Regions from separate parts of the Homo sapiens genome. Here regions 2 and 3 are each linked to region 1. The links come from fine-mapping of genetic effects on gene expression. A gene starts in region 1. Each other region holds a variant in brackets. All regions are shown on one strand. Distances are between the middles of the regions. Region 1 holds the start of SCARA3 (scavenger receptor class A member 3). Region 2 has its middle 22 kb from the start of SCARA5. Region 3 has its middle 22 kb from the start of MIR3622B.

The links.
Region 2: its variant is fine-mapped to the expression of SCARA3 in esophagus muscle (GTEx, PIP 0.97).
Region 3: its variant is fine-mapped to the expression of SCARA3 in thyroid (GTEx, PIP 0.91).

What each region holds. Positions count from the first base shown.
Region 1 is chr8:27,631,253-27,636,850 of GRCh38, reverse strand. It overlaps SCARA3 (scavenger receptor class A member 3), which reads right to left and starts at 2,949. Exons shown (of 6, transcript NM_016240.3): 1 at 2,644-2,949. The coding sequence starts at 2,650. RefSeq lists enhancers at 1,657-2,485, 2,486-3,315.
Region 2 is chr8:28,012,145-28,017,742 of GRCh38, reverse strand. No RefSeq gene overlaps it. Among named protein-coding and RNA genes, the nearest start is that of SCARA5, 22 kb to the right of the region's middle. The variant A/T (reference allele first, on the strand shown) is at 2,057.
Region 3 is chr8:27,720,993-27,726,590 of GRCh38, reverse strand. It overlaps a transcript of SCARA3 not described here. Among named protein-coding and RNA genes, the nearest start is that of MIR3622B, 22 kb to the right of the region's middle. The variant A/T (reference allele first, on the strand shown) is at 2,816.

The sequences.
Region 1 (5,598 bases):
CATTTCCATCTCTGGTAGAGGGGCGGCTCTTCCCGGCTGCCAGGGAGGGAAGTGCTGGAAGTCAGCCCCCAGCCCCGCAGCCCATGCAGCCCCTGTGATGTTATGGGAGATCACTGAGGGGTTTCCGGAGGCTGGAGGAAAAACACACCAGCGCCGCCCTCAGGGCCTCCGTAGACAGGAATCCCGCTCGGCACATGAAGAGGCTGTGGGATCCAAGGGAAAGGAGGAGAGAGGCAGGGCTTGGCTTCCTGTATAGGAACCCACAGCACAAGGAGAGCCTGGAACCCTGCAACGTGGTGTCAGCGGGTCCTCCTCAGGCACCTCTTTTTAAATATTCATTCACACCAGCTCTTTTCTTCTCTATTTCACAGGATTTTGGCCCTGCCTCTTTTTTTAAATAAATTCTATTTTTTTAGAGACAGGGTCTCACTCTGTTGCCCAGGCTGGAATGCAGTGGTGCAATCATGGCTCATTACACTTCAAACTCCCAGGCTCAAGCGATCCTCCCTCCTCGGGCTCCGGAGTAGCTAGAATTACAGGTATCTGCCACCACACCCTGCTGGTGCTTGTCTGGAATTGGGGTGGAGCCACTCTGAGAATGTGAAACATCTCACCACCATCATCAAGGTCCAGGGCAGTGTGGCCCCGTGTAAGATGTGGTCCAAGACCTTTCTGGAGGCTTCCAGTAATGGTCTGCCCTGGGCCAGCTGACTGCAGAGGGTTCAGCTGCAAAGGTGTCTCAGTGAGGAGCAGGACTTGGGGCGAGGCTCCCCTCACTGCCTGCCAGGTGCTCCCTAGGGCTGATTATAACTTGCTTGGCTCATCCCGCAGAGCCTAGGACTTGGGGAGGCCAACGGGAAGCACAGAAAGAAGGTGCCAGAGGCAGAGGGAAGGAAGCCACAAAGAGGCAAGGTGGATTCTAGACTAGAAGTCAGGAGTCCTGGGGTCTAGTCACCCTGACTAACTGTGATTTGTAACAACTCACTTCTGTCCACAGGACCAGCTACATAATTTGTGGGGCCCAGTGTAAAAGGAAAGTGTGTGTGTTTGTGTGTTGGTGGGAGGGGATGACTTGTTAAAAAATTATAAGAATTTCAGGCCTCATGGTGGATCAAGGCTGTAATCCCAGCACTTTAGGAGGCTGAGGTGGGAGGATCGTTTGAGGCCAGGAGTTATAGACCAACCTGGGCAATATAATAAGGCCCCATATCTATCAAAAAAAAAAAAAATCCATGCATGGTGGTGCACACCTGTAGTCCTAGTAGTACCAGCTACATGAGAGGCTGAAGTGGGAGGATCACTTGAGCCCAGAAGTTTGAGGCTGCAGTGAGCTATGATCATGCCATTGCACTCCAGCATGGGCAACAGATTGAGTCCCTATCTCTAAAATAAAACAAAATAAAATACATTTTTAAAAAGTTCAAGATAGCACCTGCAGAGCATTAAACCAAGTGTGGGACCTTGTAGGATGGCACTGGTTGCAGAAGCCATGAAGCCAGCCCTACCTGCTTGGGCCTCAGTTTCCCTAACTATGCAATGCGGAGGCTGCATCCAGTCAGAAGTTTGTCGGTGGAGCCCTTTCTTCCAATGAACCCTCAGGCCATTCTTTGTATGAGAGACAAACAGAGCTGCTCTGGTTGAAGTAGGCTGAGAGCTCTGGCCCCACCTCTTCCACCTCCATACCTGTCAGTGGCACCTGAGAGTGTGGTTGAGAGCCCTGTAGATGATCTCAAAGGCCCTTTTCAGTTTCTACTTTCCATAAGCAGATGAGGTGGTGAGGTTCTCACTGCTAGGAACACAAGCATCTGCTGGGGGTGTTACAGGAGGATTACTGAAAGACACCCGAAATGGCGTTCAAAACCTCGGAGGTTCCCTGCCTCATGAGATAACTCCAAAGCCTGCTTCTCCTGTAGCCTCAAAATGACCTTGAAGACCAAGTAGGGGCCTAAAGACACCCAGGCCCTGGAAATGGCCACTTGGGATCATGTCTGGTTCTTATTTCCATCCCAAGAACTGGCTGCAAGGGCCACCCTGCTGCTGGCTCACCACCCTGGGGAGAGGTCAGTCCTGGCCCATGGGGCTTCCCCGGCGGCTTCCTCCCAAGGAGGTCAGAGGGTGGGTCAGGCAGGGTTCAGGGGTTGGGAAGGGCAGGGCCTGGGCTGAGGGGCTCTGACACTGCAGGTCTCTTTTGGGGAAGGGCTGGAGGTCCTGGGGGAGAATCCTAGGCCTGGCCCCCGGTTGAAAGGCTCGGTGGGGGATGCAGGGGCCTCTCTGATGGGTCCCCAGGGTCGAAATTTACACTGCTGGAAAGTTGGGCTGGTGATGCCTTTCTGCGTCTACTGGTTAAAGGGATCAGAAACTTCTCTGGATTTTAAAATTATTTGTGAGGTTAGAGCAACGGCCGATGAGAACAGGACTGCAAGGGGGGGTGTGTGAGTGTCCCCATCCTCCCTCTCCTCTTTGCTTCCTCTGGTCTTCAGGGATCCGTCCTGTCTCGCAGGATGCCCAAAAAGGCAGGGGAAAAGCCAGAGGCGCCCTGCCCTCCTCTCAGCCTCGCCTGCAGAAAAGGCGCCCCCCAGGCCCTGGGTGGAGCGGGGGTGCAGGCGGCCCCCCTCGGAGCTGCCCCCGACAGGCCGCCCTTACCTTTCATGGTCTCTTCCTCTGGGGCCTCAGGAGGGCCCCGCTGCAGGCGGCTGGAGCTGTAGTGGAGCCGGGCGGCCGGCGGATCCTCCAGGGCGCGGATCGCCGTCCTAGGCGCCGCCCGCGGCCGTGGGGCTCCGGCCGGGACTCATGCTCCGGCGCGCGGGCTGCGGAGGCGGCGGGAGGAGTGGAGGGTCCCGCGGGGTCGCAGCCTGGGGAAGCCCCGCCGGGCGCCTAGCGCCGCGCCCCGCCGCCCAGAGCGCGCATCCCGCCGCCGCCCGCGCTTCCCGCTGGGGCCCCGCGAGGTCTGCCGCCGCCCCTCGCCCCGCGCACCCTTCCTCCCTCCCTCCTTCCCGCCTTCTCCTCTCCCTCTCCCTCCTTTCCTCCCTCGCTCGCAAGCCTCCCTCCCTCCTCGTCACTTCTTGGGCCCCGGCCCAGATCAACTTCCTTGGTATTTTCAAAACTGCCGCGGCCGGCCTCTTTGTGCCGCCGCGGGGGCCCCGCGCCCCGCCTACCTCGCCCGTGCGCCCCCGCAGCCCCACAGCCCAGCCTCGAACCCGGGCTCCCGCGGCGTCCTCCCTGCCCGCGCTGCGGCCGCAATGGGGGGGCTCACCGGGAGAGCTCCTTGATCTTAGTCCATTTCACTATCGGGACCGCCAAGTGGCTGGGGCAGGGGTGGGGACCCCAGATTTTAGCCCTGCACGTTTTTCTCGCCCATCTTATGATGTCGAGGGCCTGGGAGAAGGACGTCCGGGAGAAGGACGTCCGCACATTTTAGTACTGAAAGTCCCGTGTCCAGGGCAGACGTGGAAGGTTGGCCACCCTGTGAGCACCCTGGCTCTGCCCCTGGCGAGCTGAGTGACTTTGGGCATCCAGTTCTCATCTCCAAGCCTCTTCTTTCTACATGAGAGAATTGGGCCTGGAGTGCGCCACATTCTGTGATTTATTTTTCATTTTTATTTTTTTGAGGCTCTAGCCATCTAAGCTGGAGTGCAGTGGTGCAATCTCCGCTCACTGCAACCTCCGCCTCCTGGGTTCAAATGATTCTCCTGCCTCAGCCTCCCGAGTAGCTGGGATTACAGGTATGCACCATCCCGTCCGGTAATTTTTTTTTGTATTTTTAGTAGAGACTAAAAATGTTGGGGAGGCTGGTCTGGAACTCCCGACCTCAGGTGGTCCACCCACCTCAGCCTCCCAAAGTGCTGGGATTATAGGCCTGAGCCACTGCACCTGGCCATCAAATTCTGTGATTTTGTTGGTGGAGGGGTCTCTGGGGTAAACAGTGACAGCCAAGGAAAGTGAATGCAGGCAGGGAGTTGAGACTGGTCATAAGCGCCACTCAGGATTCTCACGTGTCATTTTTCATTGATTGAACAAACATTTACCGAGCTCCCAGCTGCCGGCCAGGTCTAGGTCCGCTGTCCAATCTGCCCACCCTGCAAGCTGCCCCTGCAGGTAATCAATCAGGTGACACGGGTTTTAGAAAAGAGAAAAAAGACTTATTGGCAAGGGCACCAAGAGAGGAGGTGGGAGAACAGCTCTCAAATCCACCTCCCAGAAGATCAGGCTTAAGGATATTTATGGGTTAGGGAAGTAGAGTGGTCTAAGCCATGGGGAAAGGCAATTGGCAGTGGGGACAAATGAAGAAACAGGTTCATTCCATGCCAATGTAGTCTGAGCTAATGGTATTTCATAGGACATATATGCAGAAAATGGCAGGGTTAGCATGATCCAAGGGTGGAGTTTTTTGGCTCTCCGACATTGAAAGCCCACCTCTTGGGGCACTTGCCCAGTTGAAGGGCCAATGGTCTCACCAGTTTGAGATGGACAGGAGCTAGCCCAAGTTCCTAAAAAACAACTGAAGAGATCATTACCATGGTGGCCTATGAATGTTACCTATAAAGTAGTGAATGAAGGTTAAGTTTCAGTGTTCAGTGGTGTAGCCTTCAGCTTCATGGAAAAAAGAAAACAAAAACAAAAACAAAAACAAAAAAAACTCACCAGAAAAACAAAAAGCAAGCAAGCAACCAAAAGCAAACAGGGCAGCCAGACTATACCAAAATGGTTTCGCTACAAGGGACCAGGCTCTGCCCCAAGCTCCAGAAGTGTGAGGAACATGTCACATGGCCAGTCTGGTTAGGAAAGCCAGTAATTAAACAAGCAGCAGTGCAGAAGTGGGATGAATGTTATGAGAAGAAAAGTGCAGGGAGAAACGGGACCACAAAGTGGCACAGGCCAGCCTGGTCTCTTCTGATGCCACAGTCAGCACCATCTCCCCATCCCCAAGCCCTATTTAATGCTGAAGTAAAGTAGGTGAGACCCGAGGGGAAGAGAAAGTGTCTCCTAAGCCTGGAGTAGAGAAGAGGACAAGGACAGCCACCCCTGTCTGTAGATCCCATCAGATCAGCAAGGGTGATGCTGTGTTCTCTCTAATCTCCATTTTGCCATGGCAAATTTACAGTTTGCGAAGTCCCTTCTCTCCATGATCTCAGCAGAACCTCACAACCACCTTGAGAGGGGGATCCCAGGGACTGTGCTGCCCATTTTACAGATGAGGAGACTGAGGTTTAGAGGGGGCATTGCCTGCCTGGTGACAGTCATGTGCTCCTGTCACCTGTATCTGGGTTCCGAGTTTGCCGCATGATCTGAGTCTCCCACAACTAGGGCATGGATCAGGAGAGCTGTTTTGTAAACCCCAGGGAGATAGTCACCTTGGAGGTTACCTGTATGCTAACTTATTTACCTTGGAGGTTACCTGTATGCTAACTTATTTACCTTGGAGGTTACCTGTATGCTAACTTATTTAATCTTCATGTCCGCTCTATGAAGTAAGCAGCATTATTGCCTTCATTTTTCAGATGAGGAAACTGAGGTATGGAGAGGGTAAATAATGTGCTTAGCACCACGGAGCTAGTAAGTGGAGACCTTGGAATATGAACCTAGGCAGGCTAAATCCAA
Region 2 (5,598 bases), 380 kb before region 1:
TTAAAAGTAAAAGGATGGAAGATAGATATTTGTAAATACTAATCTAAAGACAGAGTTTCTATATCAATATTAGACAAAGTAAATTTCAGAGCAAGGAATATTACTAATGATAAGGAGGATCATCACTGCATAGTGATAAAGTGGTTAATTCATCAAGAGGACATAATAATCCTAGTTATGCACCTAATAAGTTTCAAAATGCACAAAGCAAAAGCTAATAAAACTCAAAGGAGAAATAGCCAAATCCATAATTATAGTTGGAAATCTCAATACCCGCTCTTGATAACTGATAGAACAAGTAGAAAAACTCAGTAAGGATATTAAAGAATTGAACAGTGTATCAACTAACTTTACCTAATTGAGACTTATAGAATACTCTGTAATCAACATCAGAGTGCACATTAATTTCTAGTGTACATGGAACATTTACCAAGATAGACCATATCCTGAGTCATAAAATAAGTCTCAATAAATTTTAAAATATGGAACTCATACAGAGTATGTTCTCTGACCACAGTGGAATTAAATTAGAAGTCAATAACAAAAAGAAATCTGGAAAAGTCTTCAAATATTTGGAAACCAAACAACACACTTCTAAATAACCCGTGAGACAAGTGAGGGCTGTGGACTAAGATCGTGTTAGATTTATATCTCTCTGCTCCAAATCTTAGTTTTCACCAAATAAAATTACCTCCTTGGTATCGGAAGCCAAGGAGTTAACTCCAGCCAGAGCTTAGAAAGTCAGAGCTGGCACTGGCAGTGGGGCTGTGTGTTAACTGCCTGAAGAATGCAACGCAGAGCTGTCAGTCAGGAAGGCTGCACTGGCAGAGTGGAGCAAAAGGGGAAGAACCTGGGGCAACATCTTGAGTCCTGGTGAGAGGCTTCAGGCTGATACTGACATAAATCCAGGACAGAAATTCAGACCAATGCAATAAAAGAAGAAAAACCTCAAAAGCCAAGGGTAGAATCAAGAGGATTCAGGAACCAGAAGCAGGAGATTCAGGATAAAGGGCTGCTGGATCAATAGGTTAAAATTGCGAGCAAAAGTCTTTTGTTGTGATCCTTAATGTGCCCCAAGGGCTCCGTGGTGAGTTTGAAGTCCTAGCAGGTTCATCTTCCCAGGAAAGAGGGGTGGACTGGCTAGAGTGAGAGAAGGTTGGGAGGTGGGCAGGATTGTGCCAGGGAAAACAATGTTTTTTTGAAACACAGCTCTAAATGACTACACAGTATTTTCCTATATACACGTGTTATTTATTTATCCTTTGTGCTATTTTTGGACACTTAAATCATGCTGTTTTTCTCCATTGTAAATAACATCATAGAGAATATGCTTAGATATAAATCTCTGTCCCTAGCTCTGATTTTTTTTTCTTTTGGATAAGTTTTTAAGAATTCTATTACAAGGTCTGAGTCTAAAAGCATTTTAAAGTCTCAAGTTGTTTTTCAGAAACACTGTCCATTTACGAGCAGGGACGAGAGTTCCTGTGTCACTGATTCCTCACCAAAAGTGGTTGTTATCCTTTTCTGCAGTAGGTTAATGGGATGAGATTTTAAAAAGTACCACCTTGCACTACTTGGTTTGTTAGTGGTGTTGAACATTTTTCCTATTATTTGAATTGCTTCTATTTACTTCTTTTTTTTTTTTTTTTAACTCCTCTAGTTTCTATATGAATTGCTTCTATTTAAAGGGTCCTTCCATGATCTTTTCTTTTGGAGTTCCCCATCACTTTCTTTTGATATTTTTCTTTTTTCTTCAAAAGAATTTCAAACTTACAGAAAAGTTGCAATAATAGTACAAAGAACTCCTACAGACACTGTATCAACTTGTTGACATTTTGCTACATTTGCTTTGCTGTATCATTCTTTGCCTGTCCGTGTGTGTCTATTTGTGCATACTTTTTGTGCATACTTTTTCTGAATGATTTCAAAGTAGGTTGCATATGTCATGTTCCTTTATCCCTTAATGTTTTTGGGTATTCCCCAAAAACAAGTACACTTTCTCACATAACCCTAGTATGATGATCAAATTCAGAAAATTCAACATTGATTATGGGTA[A/T]GATACTATCATTTTATCTATAATCTGCATTCAAATATCATCGGTTGCCCTAGTTATAGCCGGTATTGCCAACATTTTCCAGTAGAGTATCCAGCCCAGGATGCTGTGTTACATGTATTTATCACGTCTCTTTGATTCCTTTAATCTAGAACATTTCCTCAGCCTTTCCTTACCTTTCATAACATGGACATTTTTGAGAGGTACAGGCCAGCTGTTTTATAATATGTGGGTTTGTCTGATGTCTCTTCGTGATTGGGTTTAGACTATGCATCTTTGGCTAAAACAACCTCATCAGTGCCCCCTGTCCCTTTTTCATAAGAATAATAATAAAAAAACACTGACAGCTTGACAATGAGGGAGGAAACTAGAAACTAAAGACCCACACGGTCTATCGTGGGTGCAGAGAAGAGTCCCTCACTTTCTGCCCTGAGGGGTGATCTTTTGTAGCCCAGGAGGTGAGTATGCAGGGCAGGGAGGTTGAGGACAATCAGTGACAAGTCTCTCAGCCATTTGGCCTGGAATATCGCCTGTTTATGGCTTCCAGGGGTCAGGGTGGCACGACCAAAGATATTTTTTAAGTGTGGGTGGAGGAGGGGAGAAATGGGGTTGACGCTTAACTGCATTTCAGCCTGTGGCAATCAGGAAGCAAATACCTTCCCATCTCAAGCTTCTCTGTCTCCCTAGTCTGGCTGAACCACCGAAGGGCCAGGTGGCTGTTTCCCTGCACAGCAGGGGAGGACAAGAGCCTGGGCCCTTGTGGCTAAGGAGAGGAATCTCCCAGGCTGAGACCTTCCAAGGCTATCTTTCTCCTGACCGCTCACTGTCTCTGCTCCTAACAGCCCCTCTGCAGGTCTCCTGCCCGGGATCCCCACGCCCCTTGCTTTGGGAACTCTACCCTTCTCCATCTGTCAGTGGAAAACTCCAGAGCTCAGGCTTTGGCCAAAAATCAGTGGAGACCCTCCTCTGTCCAGGTTTGTCAACTCTGACATGGGAGAAATGGACTCTAATCCCATGGCTTCAGCATCTCCAGCAAGAACTGTGGCTTTGTAGGTTATCTGTGGGCAAGCACATCTCTCCAAAGCAATTATTATTATCATTTAGGACACAACACTGCCTCGTCCTGTATGAGGAGGGCTTACTCTTGGACCCTGTTTCTCGGCATGATCCTGCTAAGGGGCCTCTTCTCCACCCTGTTCCGGGCTGATATCACTAAAGCCACCACTTAAACAGAGATGGGCCCTGTCTTATCCATCTCCACGGGGTGGTGCAGCTTAGATAAATAACAGCTTAGAGTAGCTCCTTTCTGATCCCCGGTCTCTCCCTTGGGAGATGCCACTTTCATCCTGCACAAGTACCTTACAATCATCATAAATGGTGACTCTTGCTCATTTCCAATGTTAAATTATAACCAATAAGCTCTGCTTAAGAAAGGAGAGGAATGATCCTTGTTGAGGACACATCATCCAAAGTGTAATAATAAAAAGCACCAGATGACATGAAGGAATGTGTTGTCTGTGGAGCATGGCTGTAAGGCTGGTTAATTGAAGTGTTATTATATTATTAAAATACAACATCAGCATCTCCATGCCAAGGAGAGCATTGAAAAGAGCGCCATGTTATCATTTGCTCTGAAGGCATCATACCATGTGCAGGCAGCGTTAGCAGCTGACCTTGGGTTCTTCCTTCATTCCTTTTCCCTTTCTTTCCATTCCAATTGAACTGCCCAGAATAAGATGAGTTTGTGTCTTTTTCTTCTGTCTGAGTACCACCCCATAACTCAATACACCCCACTTATCTCAACCACATACTGTGATCTGATTAGGGACAAAGAGAAAATTGATATTGATCTCTGAAATCTGGATGGGACGGCATTCTAGATACCCTCTATGATCAAAACCATGTTAAGTCTATATTTTCAAATCTTGCTGCATTGTGTCTGCATTCTAGATACCCTCTATGATCAAAACCATGTTAAGTCTATATTTTCAAATCTTGCTGCATTGTGTCTATAAAAGTTCTTTCTTTTATTTTTCCCTCTGGAAGAAACGTGGATTCTTGATGCTGGAAAGAGGACAGACAAGTTGACGGGTTATATGGCCATGAGCTTTTGTTATGGCACCACTGGGGAGGAAAGGCAGATGTTGCCTCAAGCTAGAAGACAAGAAAAGGCCCTGTTTAGCTGGTAGGGAGGAAGCTGTCACTGCTGCCTGAGACTCAGGGCCCAAGGCAACTGCTTCCTCTCTCTCACTGTCTCTCTCTCCTTGCCCCTTCCCCCCTCCCATTTTTTCCTTCCTTCTCATTCTCCCTCCCCCTCTCTCTTCCCCATGTCTCCCTTTCTCTCTCCCTCTCCCTCTTTTCCCTCTTTGCCCTCTCTCTTCCCCCTCTCTCCCTCCCTGTCTCTCTCTTTCCTTCTGTCCTTGCTCCCTCTCTTCCTCCTCTTTCCCTCATTTCTCTTTCTCCCTCTCCTTCCCCATCTCTCCCTCTCCCTCTCTCTTCCCTCTTTGCCCTCTCTCTTCCCCCTCTCTCCCTCCCTGTCTGTCTCTTTCCCTCTGTCCATGCTCCCTCTCTTCCCTCTCTTTCCCCCCTTCTTTCTCTATCTTTCTCCCTCTCTCTTCCCCATCTCTCCCTTTCTCTCTCCCTCTCTCTTCCCTCTTTGCCCTCTCTCTTGCCCTTTTCTCCCTCCTTCTTTCTCTTTTCTTCCTTCTCTCTCTCCCCCCATCCTTTCTCTTTCTCTCCCTCTCTCTCCTGTCTCTCTCTTTGCCCTCTCTCTTCCCTTCCCCTCTTTCTCTTTTCCTTCTCCATCCCTCCCTCCCTCTCTCACTTTCTCTCTCTCTCTGTCTCAGAGAAATCAAAACCTGTGGTAAAAGAAAGAAGTTTATAAAAACCTGGTAGAATTGTTGAAAACTCTGGAACTACTAGTGTCTTAGAAAGAGTTCAAGATGAGTTAAAGATTCCTACTCAAGCCCAGTTGGGTGGAGCCAACATCAGAAAGCAGGGATTGATGACAATGGAGGATTGTGCTTAGCCACACATTTCTTTACACCTCACTGAGACTGCTCCATTCTTATAATTTTGATAATGGCATTTATTTGCTGTATTTGTGTGTATCTTAGGGCATAGTTCTCAACCTCGGTTGCACTTTTAAAGCAGTTGGGAAGCTTTTTGAAATCCTCATGCCCAAGTGGATCCCACTCCAGACACCAATATCAGAATCTCTGGGAGTAGAGCTCAGACTTAGAGTATTTTTTTTTTAATCACTGCTTTATTGTAACATAAATTCAAGTTCTAGAACCCCATGTGTTCTATGCTTTGGAGACCTTATAATTCAGAACCCTAAAACTTGAGAAGTTCTCCTATAAGCAGCAGACTGTGTATGTGGATCAGGGATGTGCAGTTACGTTTTTAACAGCCCACTGAGAACAGAGAGACACTGAGCACTTCCATCCTTATGGGCAACCTTTCAGGCCATGAGAGAAGAGAGAGCAGTCGGTGCCCAGGCAGGGTGGGGCATAAAAGCAGAGAGAATGGAGAGGTGGGAAGAA
Region 3 (5,598 bases), 90 kb before region 1:
GTCGCTGGGATTACAGGCGCCCGCCACCAAGCCCAGCTAATTTTTTAAATATTTTTAGTAGAGACGGGGTTTCACCGCATTGGTCAGGCTGGTCTCGAACTGCTGACCTTGTGATCCACCCGCCTCGGCTTCCCAAAGTGCTGGGATCACAGGCATGAGCCACTGCGCCTGGCTGTTGTTTTTAAGAGACAATGTCTTGCTCTGTTGCCCAGGCTGGAGAGCAGTGGCGCAATCATAGCTCACTGCAGCCTTGAACTCCTGGGCTCAAACAATCCTCCCACCTCAGCCTCCTGAGTAGCTGTGACCACAGATGCACACCACTACACCCAGCTAATTTTTAAAAATTGTGTAGATGCAGGTCTTGCTATGTCACCCAGGCTGGTCTTGAACTCCTGGGCTCAAGTAATCCTCCTGCCACGGGCTCCCAAAGTGCTTCTATGTTTCCTTTGTGCATGTCATGCACAGGTTTCATAGACTCATAGCCTGTGGAGGTTGGAAGAGACTTTAAGGGTCATCTTAGCTGACCTAACTGTGACCTCTGCGACTCCCTAAACAGAAGACCTAAGCCTGGGCATGAATGCATCCAGAGACGGGAGCTCATGACTCACAGTGACTTCTACCTGCTGCTCTGTCCTCTGGAGCCACACAGTACAAGTTGAATTCATCTTTTCATGTGACAGTTTAAAAAGTTTCAAGACAGCTGTCAGCTGCCACCTGTGACTGCCCCTAAACATCCCATTCTCTGTGATCCAACGAGACAGCAGGAAAAGCAGGCATCTGCGGACAGAGGATGGCTTCTGACATCCCATGGGGCAAGACCCCCCAACTCTTCCCTGTTTGGCTTACTCCCAGGGAAGGAGCAGCTCTTGAACTGTGCATGGTCTCCAGCCATGACTCCAGCCATGAACCCAACCATGATCCCAGCTGGCCTGCACAGGAATAGGGTAGAGACAATTCTCCAAATGTAGCCTAGACACCTGACTCTGACTTACACCACCCATTAAATCCCCTGTCTTTTCTGCACTTTGTATTGATTAGATTATTCTGGTTTTTTTTTTTTTGGAGGGGGCAGTGGTTTGGACCATGGTATAGAACTTTAGATTTATTCCTTAAAATTTCTTTTTACTATATAATGTAACAAACACACAAAAGAGTGTATGAAAAGATATGTTCATTTTCAAGGATAATATAAATATAAATATAAATATAATATAAATATTATATGTTATATTTCTGAGGTTAGGAAATAGAGCAGTACTCACCCATCCTTCCTCAAAGTCCCATTTGCACCCTTTCCTAATCACATGCCTGGCTTCCCCCCAGCTCTCCTGAATTTTGTGATAATCATCTGCTTCTTCTTCATATCTTTTATCTCTGATGTGTATTTCTATAAATAATACACTGTTTAGTTCAACCTGTTTTTGTTTGTTTGTTTGTTTTAGAGACAGGGTCTTTCTCTCTTGCCCAGGCTGGAGTGCAGTGGTGCAATCACAGCTCACTGCAGTCTCAAGCTTCTAGGCTCAAGTGATCCTCCTACCTTGGCCTCCCAGAGTGTTAGGATTACAGGTGTGAGCCACCACCGATTCTTCCTATTTTGAAACTCATTCATGGAATCTTATTGTAATGTTTTTTCTATGACTTGCTACTTTCAGTCAATATTATGTTTTGATGAATTTTCTCTGTCAAAGACATCTAGTTGGAATCTGCCTATTGAGTTATTTATGGTTCTCATTATTTCCTTGAACATAATTCCTTTTACAAATATATGTACATGTTTGTAAATATTCCTTCTATATTGTCACCCCCCAAAATTTGGAAGAATGGGATAGGTCTCAGAATAGTGCCTTCAGCAAACATCCCTTCTGACTGAGGTTAATCCATTACTTAGCACTCTTTGGGCACACTTAACCAGTTTTTTGTTTGGTTTTGTTTTGAGAAGGAGTCTTGCCCTGTCGCCAGGGCTGGAGTGCAATGGTGCGATCTTGGCTCACGGCAACCTCTGCCTCCCGGGTTCAAACGGTTCTCCTGCCTCAGCCTCTCAAGTAGCTGGGATTACAGGCACCTGCCACCACACCAAGCTAATTTTTGTATTTTTAGTAGCGACAGAATTCATGTTGGCCAGGCTGATCTCGAACTCCCGACCTTGTGATCTGCCCGCCTCGGCCTCCCAAAGGGCTGGGATTACAGGCTTGAGCCACTGTGCCCGGCCACACTTGACCAGTTTTAATCCTCCTGATTTTACTTTAATCTGGACTATATTCTCCTACTTGCTCACATGGTTGTCAAAAAACAACCTTGCTTTAGAGCCAGATAAAATATATTTATGGCGTCTTCCTGATCTACCAGTCTAGCAACCCTGCCAAAAATAAAAAATAAAAAAGGAATGAGGCTTTGAGAACTTGTATTGACTCCTAGTAATTGCTGTACTATTTTCTAAATAACATAAAGCAGCCCTTTGGTTTCTATAATTTTGCCTGTGATTGATGGCAAGTCATCAAGCCGAGAGTTGTGGGAATTCACTGTTGACCTCTGGAAAATAAGAACTACCCTTTCCAGGCCAGGTGCAGTGGCTTGCGCCTATAATCCCAGCACTTCGAGAGGCTGAGGCGGGTGGATCACTTGAGGCTATGTGTTCGAGACCAGCCTGGCCAACGTGGTGAAACCCTGTCTCTACTAAAAATACAAAAATTAGCTCGGCATGGTGGCACGTGCCTGTACTCCCAGCTACTCGGGAGGCTGAGGTCGGAGACTCGTTTGAACCTAGGAGGCAGAGGTTGCAGTGAGCTGAGATCGCACCGTTGCACTCCAGCCTGGG[A/T]GACAGAGCGAGACTCTGTCTCTGAAACAAACAACAAAAAGAACTGCACTTTTTGATACCTAGTCTTGCTTTCCATGGTTGCTCAAAGTTCACAAATAACACTTGAGAAATCTCCACTGACAAGTTTTCAGTACCTGGGGTGTCCGTCATCTGGGCCAGGAAGCTAGGAGTTGGAGAGGACAAGAGGTATTTTTAGTACAGAGAAGGGATCGACTGGGACAAAGCTCTTAATGATTGGCTTCCAGAACGTGGTAGATGAAGTAATTTGTAAGAAATCAGCAGTCGGAGTGAGATTAAGACTCTAAGGATGAAGGGGAAAGATTGAGACAGTCAGTGCGTGACGAAAAGCTCACTCTTACAAGAAATGAATCAGAAGGTTGCCAAAAGGAAGTGGTAGAGTTAGAACAATTTTGTAGTCGGTCCATTTAGCATGGAATGATAACTTTCTCCACCTGCCAATTCGGAGCCAAGGAACAGGAGAGAAGAAAGAAAACAAGATAGCCCAGGGCTGTGGATGCATCAGCTCAGGGGTGAACTTCAAGGAGTTCAGGTCATTTGTGGGGCAGCATCAGAGGGGCTGAGGGGCTCCAGGCCCCGCAAGAAGGAAATCAAATATATATTTTAAAAATGTATGGACAGGTGAAAATGGGACAAGTAACGTGATTGGGGATCTGTCCAAGAGATAAGTGGGTTATGGAAGGAAAGGGAAGCCACCACCAAGTATGAGACTAAGCAGCAGATGCACAGCGTGGTTGATGTTGGGATGTATTCTGGGGAAGCAATGCTGCCTGCTGCCGAAGAGGGAGCCCAGTGTGCTGGTGGGAGGGAGAGATGGGTTCAGGTGGGGCGGCCATATCACCTGAAGTCAGGGACAAGTGGACCTGGTGCCGGGGTCACTAGGAGAAAAGGGATACCCTGTTGGAGAAAGTAACAGGACCAGATGGTGTGACCTTCAGTGTCAATGGTGGGTAACAGTCTGGGGAAGCAGCAGAAAACAAGGCGTGGTTTCCTACTTGGCCATACAATGTTATGGTGAGGGGAGATGGATAGGAGAAAGCTGCTTTGGTTAAGGAGAAAGGCTAAGGAGAAAAAGGCTTGAAAATGAATGGAAATTTGCAGTGATAAGGCTGGGGATAGTAGGGCTTTCTGACAGCAGCTCAAGAGCCATTAGAGAATGGGTCTGAGGCCAATGGCCAGGGGCAGAGCACAGCAGAGAACTGTGGGTGGCTTTTGGAGAAGACATGTTGTGGATACTATGGATGGAGGCACGAGGGTTTGGAGGTCTGTGTGAGGGCCAGGGGTGATCTTGTTGAAGCCTCACAATCATTCTATGGGGTGAATCTGACCTCTTTTTTTATAGATGCAGAAGCCCAGAGTAGCTGTGAACATGAACCATGAGCTCTCTGTGGGCAAGGCTGCCTGTGTCTTCATGCATCTTCACATCTACAGGAGTACCTGTCCCAAGTGTGGGAGTCTGTGCAAAAGGACAGTTAGTCCATTTGCACAATACTTGCAAGCTTTTCAGGAGCATGCAAAAAATGTATGAGACCTTGGAAAAATGTACTGGCTTCTAGATTCAAATAGAAACCACAATCGAATACATATTTAATTAATGTCTACAAATGTCATGCTACCATATCATCCTTACATCTAGATTTAGCATTCATAAATATTTCATTTCATTTAGAGACAGGATCTCACTCTGTTGCCTAGGCTGGGGCACAGTGATGCTATCATTAACTTACTGCAGCCTTGACCTCCCAGGCTCAAGCAATCCTCCTACTTCAGCTTCTTGAGTAGCTGGGACCACAGGCGCATGCCTCCACTCCTGGCTAATTTTTGTATTTTTTCTTTTTTGTAGCGACGGCATCTCGCTACATTGCCCAGGCTGGTCTCAAACTCCTGTTTGAGAGTTTGGCCAAGTGATCCACCTGCCTTGGCTTCCCGAGGTGCTGGGATTACAGGCAAGAGCCACTGCACCTGGCCTTATTTCATTTTAGACTTGTAAATTGGAAGTGCACTTTGATTACTGAGGAATCATGGTCATTTGTAAACTGGGTTGCTCAAAGCCAAACATCAGCATTATCCCTAAGTTAAGGGTGAGTTCCAGGGTCCTGGGTGTTCCTGGCAAGACCCCCATTCCACCTCAGTCTCACCGACACCATCTAACTTGAGGCCATTGGGATGAATCTCAATTGTCTTTTATCACTCTAAAGGCCAGAACCAACCATTTAAAAACCCTTGTTCATGGACAATAAACCAATCTTGCCTCATTCTTTTGTTCTTTATATTTCTTGCTTTATTTTTATCCATGACATTTATCTACCATACTGTATATATTTTCTATCTATTTGTTGGACTCAACCCCAAATAAGTTCCATAAGACCTGAAATGTTTGTTACTTCTCTGTCCCCAATGCCTAGAACAGTGCCCGGTTCATAGTAGGTACTCAATAATATTGGTTGAGTAAATAAAATTTTTGAAAGCAAAGTCTCTAAAAACTTCAAAATTTTACAGCAAATACAGATATATATGTATATTTATTTAATGCATAATATGAGTAAATTTTATTGCATTTGATGTGAGGTGGAATAGAGCTTCTAAAAAAGTAAGAAGCTTGGATGTTCTTAAAATGGCCTTACTCATGAAATGAGGGAGGTGGGGAGGGAGGGAGGGAAGGAGGGATGGATGGAAGGATGGATAGATGAGTAGGTGAGTAGATGGATAATAGGTGCATGAATGGATGAATTGGCAGATTGGGTGAATAGGTGGGTGAATGGATG